Regions from separate parts of the Homo sapiens genome. Here region 1 is linked to region 2. The links come from fine-mapping of genetic effects on gene expression. A gene starts in region 2. The other region holds a variant in brackets. All regions are shown on one strand. Distances are between the middles of the regions. Region 1 has its middle 120 kb from the start of EPM2A-DT. Region 2 holds the start of FBXO30 (F-box protein 30).

What was found. PIP is the estimated chance that this variant, and not a neighbour inherited with it, causes the effect. A credible set is the group of variants that fine-mapping cannot tell apart.
Region 1: its variant is the best candidate, but not a certain one, in a credible set for the expression of FBXO30 in whole blood (INTERVAL, PIP 0.51).

What each region holds. Positions count from the first base shown.
Region 1 is chr6:145,616,208-145,621,592 of GRCh38, forward strand. It overlaps a transcript of EPM2A not described here. Among named protein-coding and RNA genes, the nearest start is that of EPM2A-DT, 120 kb to the right of the region's middle. The variant A/T (reference allele first, on the strand shown) is at 2,996.
Region 2 is chr6:145,812,577-145,817,914 of GRCh38, forward strand. FBXO30 (F-box protein 30) reads right to left here and starts at 2,219. Exons shown (of 3, transcript NM_032145.5): 1 at 2,027-2,219. All of the region lies in intron 1 of EPM2A-DT (EPM2A divergent transcript), which reads left to right. RefSeq lists enhancers at 1,628-2,182, 3,240-3,309 and a silencer at 1,860-2,399.

The DNA.
Region 1 (5,385 bases), 200 kb before region 2:
ATCCCAGCTGTTCCAGCCATGGCTGAAAGGGGCCAACATAGAGCTCAGGCCATGGCTTCAGAGCGAGCAAGCCTCAAGCCTTGGCAGCTTCCACGTGGTGTTGAGCCTGCCAGTGCACAGAAGTCAAGAATAGGGGTTTGGGAACCTCTGCCTAGATTTAAGAAGATGCATGGAAATGCTTGGATGCCCAGGTAGAGGTGTGCTGCAGGGGCAGGGCTCTCATGGAGAACCTCTGCTAGGGCAGCGAGGAAGGGAAATGTGGGGTCAGAGCACCTACTCAGAGTCCCTACTGGGGCACTGCCTAGTGGAGCTGTGAGAAGAGGGCCACAGTCCTCCAGACCCCAGAATGGTAGATCCACTGACAGCTTGCACTGTGTGCCTGGAAAAGCTACAGATACTCAATGCCAGCCCATGAAAGCAGCCAGCAGGGGGGCTATACCCTGCAAAGCCACAGGGGTGGAGCTGCCCAAGGCCATGGGAACCCACCTCTTGCATCAGCGTGACCTGGACATGAGACATGGAGTCAAAGGAGATCATTTTGGAATTTTAAGATTTGACTGTCCCACTGGGTATCGAACTTGCATGGGGCCTGTAGCCCCTTTGATTTGGCCAATGTCTCCTATTTGGAATGATTGTATTTACCCAATGCCTGCACCCCCATTGTATCTAGGAAGTAACTTGCTTTTGATTTTACAGGCTCATAGGTGGAAGGAACTTGCCTGGTGTCAGATGAGACTTTGGACTGTGGACTTTTGAGTTAATGCTGAAATGAGTTGAGACTTTGGGTGACTGCTGGGAGGGCATCATTGGTTTTGAAATATAAGGATGTGAGATTTGGGAGGGGTCAGGGGTGGAATGATATGGATTGGCTGTGTCCCTACCCAAATTTCATCTTGAATTGCCACATGTTGTGGAAGGAACCCAATAGGAGGTAACTGAATCATGGGGGCAGGTCTTTTCTGTGCTGTCTTCATGATAGTGAATAAGTCTCACAAGATCTGATGATTTTAAAAAGGGGAGTTTCCCTGCACAAGTTTTCTTCTTCTCTTGTCTGCTACCATATGAGATGTGCCGTTCACCTTCCAGCATGATTATGAGGCCTTCCCAGCCACATGGAACTGTAAGTCCATTAAATCCCTTCCTCCTGTGTAAATAACCGAGTCTCAATTATGTCTTTATCAGCAGCATGAACACAGACTAATACAAAGAGGATAGGCTAAAAACACAATATTTTATAGGATGTTACTCTGCTTTAATATAACTAAATACTAGTATTATATAGAAAGAGAAATCGTTATTAAAATGCTTAAAACAAAATAAGGCACAAAATGAAGATACTGATAGTACTTTCATTGAATAAATTACCCCATTCATTGACTTACAGGAAACTAAAGTTCTCATTTAATATTTTCTTCACATTTCTCTTAGATTGAAATATACATTAGATCTGGCCTGGTGCTGTGGCTCATGCCTGTAATGCCAACACTTTGGGAGACCAAGGCAGGAGTGTCACTTAATCCCAGGAGTTTGAGACCAGCCTGGGTGACATAGTGAGACCCCCATCTTTAGAACAAACTTTTAAAAATTAGCCTAGTATGATGGCAAACACCGGTAGTCCCAGATACTCAAGAAGCTGAGGTGGGAGGCTCACTTGAGCCCAGGAAGGTAGAGGCTGCAATGAGCTGTTATCGCACCACTGTACTCCAACCTGGATGACAAAGCAAGATCCTGTCTCAAAAAAAATTTTTTTAATTAAAAAACATAATAAAATACACATTAGATCTGAACACAGAATCCAAAGAGTACCTGGCTTAACTGTCATAGAATGGGCCAAAGCCTGTTTGCCAAGCACTGTTTACAGTTTCTACCTAATGATGTTATAGCTCATGTTATAGTACAGCACATTAAGAGGGGTTCTATGAAAATGCCTGGAAGAAGCACCCTTGAGGACTCATGAAGATGCCTCAGAGAGGGTGTCTTCAAAGACCCAAAGGATGAGTTGATGCTCACCAGATATAGATAGGAGGGAAGAGGATTCCAGGCAGAGGAAAAAATATGTGCAAAACCCCAAGGATACAAAAGATTGTTGAACCTTTAAGCAATTCACTGTGGCTAACAAGCACTTTTGGGAGATGGTTATAAGAATGACAACAGAGATTGGAGAGAAGGACACAGTACAAATCGTAAAGACCCTCATATGTCTGATATGGTTTGGTTGTGTCCCCACCCAAATCTCATCTTGAATTGTAGTTCCCATAATCCCCATGTGTCATGGGAGAAACCCAGTGGGAGGTAATTTAATCATGGCAGTGGTCATCCTCATGTTGTTCTCATGATAGTGAGTTCTCATGAGATCTGATGGTTTGATACAAGGCTTTTCCCCCTTTTGCTCAGCACTTCTCCTTCCTGCTGCTATGTGAAGAAGGTGGTGTTTGCTTCTCCTTCTGCGATGATCATAAGTTTCCTTAGGCCTCCCAGGCCATGCTAAACTGTGAGTCAATTAAACCTCTTTCCTTTATAAATTACCCAGTCTCAGGTATGTCTTTATTAGCAGTGTGAGAACAGACTAATACAATGTCACGTTAAGGATTTTTTACTTTTTTCTGAGAAAAACGAGGAGCCATTGAGGAATATTGAGCAAGAAAGAGACAGTAGTATATTTGAAGTAGAAAGGTCTCTCAGGCAGCAGTGTCAAGAATGATCTTGAAAGGGGTAAGGATTACAAGAGGAAGATAAGCCAGGAAGCTTTAACAATCCAGGTCAGCGTGGACAGAGGGGAGTAGTTATATTTAAGAGATATTTAGGAAGCATAATGAAAGTAATTTGTCAAATGGTTAGGAGGGTGGTAAATGGAGGAGAGATGGCAAAGATGGCATTCAAGTTTCTAACTTGGGAAATTAGGGGAAGATGTTGCCAGTGTCTGCTCAACAGAGAAAGTATGGGAGGTCTGGCAAAAAAAAAAAATTGGGGAATATTGAGTTTGGGAGATATTCTG[A/T]AAGATGTTTTGAAACAAATTGATATATAAGCCTTGTACTCAGAAGAAAGCAGTGGAATGGGGATTGAGATTTGGATATCATTACTATAGACGATGATTGAGAAAATTCTGGTTTAAACTGGCAAACACACTACTCCTCCTGACATCTGAATGGAAATTACAATATAAAATCTGAAGACAGAAATTCACCTGCAACAATGAAGAGGCAGTTAAGAAGGATTACTAGCAGATAAGATAGCTCAGGATGATAGAATGATTTTGGAAGTGAGCTGATGGAAAGCAAAGGAAGATGTGACTCAGAATACCTTATGAGGGGATGCAGTACTGCAGGAGAGCTGGGCACTCATAAGCTCACTGGAACCTTGAGAGTAACTGGGCTTAAATTCTCAGTAGTAATGGAATCTAGGATAGTTAAGAAAGCTAGAAATGGGGTGGAGTGGTAATCATAGGTCTGTCCGGCAATGAAGATTATGTCCCCACCAACATTTCTTTTTTGCCTTCCTCACAATTAAAAAAAAAATTTAAGAACACAAAAAGAAAAAGAGGAAGTATATCTAAAACAACTCATAATTATAGTTGTAATCATGTCAACATGAAGGAAGTATAAATACCAGTGAGCATAAGTCAGTGTTAAAGTTCTCCGTTGTAAGGAGGAAGACATAATTATAAAAAATAAAAAGCAAGAAGAGACACATAGAAAAGGTCAAAACATTTTTGAAATAAAAAAATGAACAAATGCAAACAGGTCTAAATATTATCAGAAATCCTAACATATAAACATGGCTTAAGCCCCTGAAACATATGAGGTGCTGAGCAGTAATTAGCATCGTTTAAACACCAGTCTATAAAGAATGAGGGATACTCACTTTGTTTATCCACTATGGGTGTAAAATCTCTGAAATTGTTTAGACCAGTGGTCCCCAACCTTTTTGGAACCAGGGACCAGTTTTGTGAAAGACATTTTTTCCATGGACAGGGAGGCGAGGGGAGTATGGTTTTGGGATGACACTGTTCCACCTCAGATCATCGTGCATTAGATAGATTCTCATAAGGAGCGTGCAACCTAGATCCCTCGCATGTGCAGTTCACAATACAGTTCACAATCCGCTGACAATCTGATGCCGCTGCTGATCTGACAGGAGGCAGAGCTCAGGCAGTAAAGCTCACTGACCTGCCACTCACTTCCTGCTGTGTGGCCCGGTTCCTAACAGGCCATGGACCACTACTGTGGCCTGTTAGGAACTGAGCCACAGGGGTTGGAGACCACTGGTTTAGGCCTTATTTCCATCTTTAGATTAGTCATTTAATATTAAGAAGGCAGCAATAAGGATTTCTATCAAATAAAAATATATAATTCCACTTTTAACCATTTTATATACAGCGAACAGTAAATTCTATTCAGTGAATTCTGAGTTTTCTCTCACTAGAAATTGATAAAGTCTTGATAAGTATGGTAATGACAATGACCTGTTCTGTTCAAGGTCCAGCTCTCCATTCTTTCACTGTCTAGTTTCTGCTAATTTTCTCCTTTATAATCCACACCATTCTGGTGCCATACTAGTTCATTTAATAGTAATTGCATATTGTTCAGTTTTTAAATAACAGCAATTTTTTCAGCCTTATTGAGGTATAACTGTCAAATATTGTATTATTTAGGGTGTACAATTATACATACATTGGGAAATGATTACCACAATCAAGCTAATTAACATATCCATTATCTCATATACCTCCCTTTTTTATGGTGAGGACACTTGTGATCTACTGTGTTCTTAGCAAATTTCAAGTATACAATACATTATTATTGTCATCATCATGTTGTAATTAATTAGGTCTCCAGGACTTATTCATCTTAAAACTAAAGGTTTGTACCATTTGACCAACATCTCCTCTTTCCTCCAACTTCTCAGCCCCTGGTAACTACCATTTTATTCACTGTTACATGAATTTGGCTTTTTAAAGATTCCACATATAAATGAGATTATGAAGTATTTGTCTTTCTGTGCCTGGCTTATTTTACTTAGCACAAGGTCCTCAAGTTTTAACGCTGTTGTTGCAAATGATGAGATTTCCTTCTGTTTAAGGCTGAATAATATTCCACTGTTTATATATCCACCACATTGTCTTTATTCATTCATCTGTCATTGGATACTTAGTTACCATACTTGACTATCACAAATAATGCTGCAATGAACATGGAAGTGCAGAAATTTCTTCAAGATACTGATTTTATTTACTTTGGATATATACCCAGAAGTGAGACTGCTGAATTAAATGGAAGTTATAGGTTTAATTTTTTTAGAAAACTCCATATTGTTTTCCATAACGGCTGTACTGATTTACATTCTCACCAAGACTGTGCAAGGATTCCCTTTTCTCCACACACCCTT
Region 2 (5,338 bases):
CCAATAGGATATAAACATGTAGTTCTCAGAAACCAGATGTACTTCGATTTGCACAACAGCCACACTTATATACACAAAAATTTTACGTGTAATTATTTTTATGAGATCATTAATTAAATGCAATCATATGAAGAACTACCTAGTAATAACATTACTCATTCTTTAAAAAAAAGATTTTCACAGACTGGGTTTTAACTGATCCGCTTGTCTGTATCTAACATCTAGCTACCTAAAATATAGAAGCAACTTGTCTAAGGCCAATCTCCTCTATTTCATCACACTGAATTTGAATTTATATTTTATACAGCCTTTGACTCAATTGTTTTATGTCAAAAAATTCTACAAATACAATGACATTCCATAATATGTACTAACTCCTTCTATCAAATAAGCAGTCTTAGGAACTGAATTAAAATATTTATCCAAAATCATACAGAATAGCATAGCGCTTATCCATTAAAATATTCACATCTTAGAAACATGTTATATCAAACAGTAAGCATTAACCAATGCCTATTTTGGTGACCTTAAAGTACCTCTCTATACACGTTAGCATTACTTATATAATATTGCTTTTTAATGATATATTAGGACACTTTTTAGAAGAAGTCTCCCAATGCTAGACCGGGAGAAATACTGGATTGAAATTAAATACCTAGTACACTTGGTATACATTAAAGTTTGCCTATATTCGAAACTTCAGTTCTCTTACAGCATTCACGAAACTCCACCATTTCCAGAATTAAAAAAAAAAAAAAAAGTTACGTCACGGCATTAAAGTGCTAGGTAAAAACAAATTGGCAATTTAAAAAGTCAGCAAAACACCATGTTATCCCCAATTAAACTTTTGTGATGAGAAACAGTGACTAAGCATGAAGAAGAGTGATTCAGCGGAAACCGCATATTGAAATCTAACCCTCTGAAAAATCCTAAAGGTTTATTTTATGCTACTCTTTTCCTTTTGCCATGTCAACAATTGGACTGCTTTGGAAAACCTTAGTATGAGCAAATGCAAAACCTGTTAATATAATTTCCATAGGTCTCTAAAGAACAAACAGTATTGAAATTTAGCAAATGGAAATTAAAATTTAAAAAGTTTGGGATTTTGTATTAAAAGATTTTAAATTAATCTACACCGATATCAGAATGCCCATAAATAACTTCATCTTGGATCAGAGTCAACGAAGTAATCATGGAATAAAAGGTCAATTCGTTCCCAAGCATCTTTTATCTGGGACTTACAACAGGGCTCAATAAGAAAAACAAGAGAAAGGGAGAGGGAAATGGAGTACTAGGACATTGGTAAACACATACTGTTTTGCCTCTTTGCCTCTATACTCCCAAATATACCCGTTAAAAACATACTGGCAGATTACTTTGAATTCAGCACGCGCTCTATAAACCCCTTCCAAGCAAAGGAGTTCCAAGGCGCAGGTCTTGGAACAACACAAATAACCTCAGGTCTGCAAAATAAGGAAGTTCCCCTTTAATAAGGACCGAGGCTAAGGCTAAGATCCTCTCACTTCCATGAATGGCAAAGTTACCAACTTTGCTCATCCCGTGCAGACAGTGGATGATGCCTCCCCAGTCTTACTTTAAGCCATTTGTCCCCAAATAACCCAAGTTTCTAAAAACCAGACGGAACGAGAAGCTTAGGGTTCCCTAAGTTTAACTCCTCCTTCGTCCCTTCCCAATACAAAGACACACAAACTGGGGGGGACACGGAGGTCGGTGCCCTCGAGGCTTAAGTCGCCATTTGCTGACCTCAACGGCTGGCCCGGCATGCGGCCCGGCGAGGACACGAGCGCGGCGGACGCCCTCTCAGGGCGCCCGGACGGCCGACCCGGGACGCGCATGGACCGGGGTCAGCCGCCTTTCCTCTGCTCCAGGCCGGGCCCGTCAACCCCACGGCCGCCAGCGCCAGCGCCTCGGTCCCGGCCGCGGCCTCAAACTGCCCGGCCGCTGCCTTCGTCCCCGCCGCAGCGCGGACGGCGCCGGCCTCCCCTGCGGGCCTCCCGTCACTCACCGGCCGGCGCGGCCGAACCGCGGCCCAGGCCCTAGCTGCCCTGGACGCCGTGCCCAGCTGCTCCGCTCTGTCCCGGCGACGCTCCGTACCCCACACAGCCGTCCGAACCGCCTCCTCCGCCCCTCTTCCCCAGCCGGGCCGCCGCCTTTTCTCTTCTCCCGGCCTGCTCCAGAGGCAGCCACCCTCCTCGCGCGCCCCGCCCCGCTGCGCCCCGCCCACCCGGCCCGGCTTCTGCCGACAGCTGGGCGGGGACGCGCACGCAGTCCCGGCGGGGACGCGCACGCCGCCCTCTGACCCCGCAGCGTCGTGGCTAGAGTAGGGTCTGGAGAGAGCTCCCACTGTGGCGAGTCCTGTCGTTGGATTCCCGCGGCGCCCCGTAAGGCTCCGCCCCGGCGGTGCTACCAAACCCTGTTCGATTTTAGAATCGTACATTCCCAGAGGGAATCCTAGACCCCTCATTTTACAGTTGAGGAAACAGGCCCAAGTAGCATGACTTGTTCGCGCCGCTAGTCGAAGGAGCAGCAGCCCCGATCCCTTGACTCTGGGGCACTGCTTTCCCTTTAGCTCATTTTTGGAGGAAATGGGTGCGCCCTTGCTCGACCTTTGGTGATTGCCGCCACAGGCCTTCCCGCCGGCTAACTCAGCGTGCCCAAGTCCCGTGACTTAGTGCCAGGACGGTGCTGTGACCCGTTATCCCCTGTCGGGTTTTACCTCCCCCCGGGAGAGCTCAGCCCTGGATCCCGGCGGGCGGCGGAGCCTCTCTGGAGCCCGGACGGGACAGCCCACCAGGGTCTGCTTCTGTGAGGGGCCGAGGCGTCATTCCGCGAAGGTAATTAGCTGGGGAGGGGACTTGAAGCCGCTTTTGCAGTGTACCTTACATATGACTGGGGAGTAAAGAAATCCCACAGGGCTGTATCAAAGAATGGATGGATGTCCACGCCCCCGCTACCACCACCAAGCCTTGGTCTACGGCCGAGGGACAGTGATTCCGAGCTCTGGGTGTTGGGAGCCGCTCACCCGCCCCCACCCCTCTGTCGGGGACTCCTGCCCACCCCGTCGCAAGAGAATTACAACAAAGGAAAGATGGTTGTAATCCTGGCAGTGGGGATGGGGGCAGAGCCAGGAAAACACTGTTGTCATCCTTTTTGTGGCTGCATCTTTACCCCTTGCTGTTGTGCTTTGGGAAAGAGAGCTCACACATAATTTGCTATCCTACAGAGAAAGCCTGTGGGTTTTTCAGATCCGTAAATTAAACAAAACAAAACAAAAACTGAGTTAGGAACTTAGATTACAGAGTAAAGGTTGATTCCTTAAATGATTAACTTTTTGAAAAATTATCTGTTCCCCTTATTTTGCCTGATTTGGCTGTAGACAGGCTCTGGTCCTCGGTTCAGACCTTGAGAGCCACTGTCCAGAGAGCTACATGGTCAGGATGGGGAAACAGGCAGGATGGCCCAGTGGGAGAGGATGTAGGTGCTGCTACACTATAGCCCCGCTCAATGCTCACTGTCCTGGATTGAGTCACAGACCTTTGTTTTGCTTTAGCTGTCCTCTTATAAAGGATCTAAAATAGATTATCTCTAGAGCCCTTTCCAGCTTTAAAATTCTGTGAATCTCTAATTATACTTATTGAGATCTGGGGCTTTACCTTTTACTAAGTCACCTAGCTGACACTAGGTCACCCTCACTCGCCTGAAGTTGAGTCATTCAGGTTGGAAACCTCATTGTCTTCTTTGTCCCTTCATCTCAATAATTTTCCATGTCCAGACAATTATTTAAAATCCTTTTTTTCTTTCACCTTCATCCCTAGTTACTGTTAAATCAAGTTTAGCCTAAAGCAGCCTCCTTACATATTTTACGTTCAGCCTAAAGGTTTCTGTGTACACCGTGAACTATAATAAGTGGAGGAGTAAACAGACCATAGCCCACACTTCTGTCAATCATTGAGTTTGGCCAATCAAATGTAGCCAGTTGTTCGAACCTTGTTCAAATAAGGCAAACCCCAACCTGTAACCAATCCAGCTGTTTCTGTACCTCAGTTCCGTTTTCTGTATGTCGCTTTCCTTCTTCTGTCCTAAATCATCTTCCACCATGTGGCTGCGCTGGAGTCTCAAAGCCTACTCTGGCTCAGGAGGCTGCCTGATGCGTGAATTGTTCGTTGCTCAAACTCCTTTAAATTTAATTTGGCTGAAGTTTTTTTTTTTTTTTTTAACATTACTGTCTTAAACAAATTTGGATGTCTGCTGTTGCCTAACCAGTCCTTTCTCCTGCAGTATCTCCTATCTCAAATCCCCTATCAACACAATTCTTCCTAAGACACCCATTTTATCTTGTTATTTTTATATTCACCTGGCTGGGATGATGTTTTAGTATGTGTATTAGGGTTCTCTAGAGGGACAGAACTAATAGGATAGATACACATAAAAGGGAGTTTATTAAGTATTAACTCACACGATCACAAGGTCCCACAATAGGCCATCTGCAAGCTGAGGAACAAGGAGAGCCAGTTTGAGTTCCAAAACTGAAGAACTTGGAGTCTGATGTTCAAGGGCAGAAAGCATCCAGCATAGGAGAAAGATGTAGGCTGGGAGGCTAGGCCAGTCTAGCCTTTTCATGTTTTTCTGCCTGCTTTATATCCTAACTGTACTGGCAGCTGATTAGATGGTGCCCACCTAGATTAAGGGTGGGTCTGCCTTTCCCAGCCCACTGACTCAAATGTTAATCTCCTTTGGCAGCACCCTCACAGACACACCTATGATCAATACTTTACATCCTTCAAGCCAATCAAGTTGACACTCAGTATTAACTGTCACAGTCTGTTTATGCTGCTATAACAAAATATTACAGACTGGGTAATTATAAATTACAAGAAACTATAATTATAAAGAAGAAAAATTTATTTTCTCACAATTCTGGAGGCTGGGAAGTTCAAGATCAAGGCATGGGCAGATTTGGTTGTCTGGTAAACATCCCATCTGTGCTTCTAAGATAGCACCTTGAACACCTCTTCCTCTGGAGAGGAGGAAAGCTCTGTCCTTATAGCAGAAGTTGAAGGGACAAAAGTCAAATTCCCTTTGCCCAGCCCTCTTATAAGGGCATCTAATCCCATTCATTAGGGCAGAGCTCTTAAAACTCAGTCACCTCCCAAAGGCCATACTTTCCAACACTGTTGCATTGGGGTTAAGTTTCAACATGAATTTTTGAGAAGGGGACAAAACCATTCAGACCATAGCAGATGGCTATCTAGAGCCCATGAGATACAGTCTCAACTCCTGTCTGCAGTTGCTCAAAGTAAATCTTTCATTGTAGCCT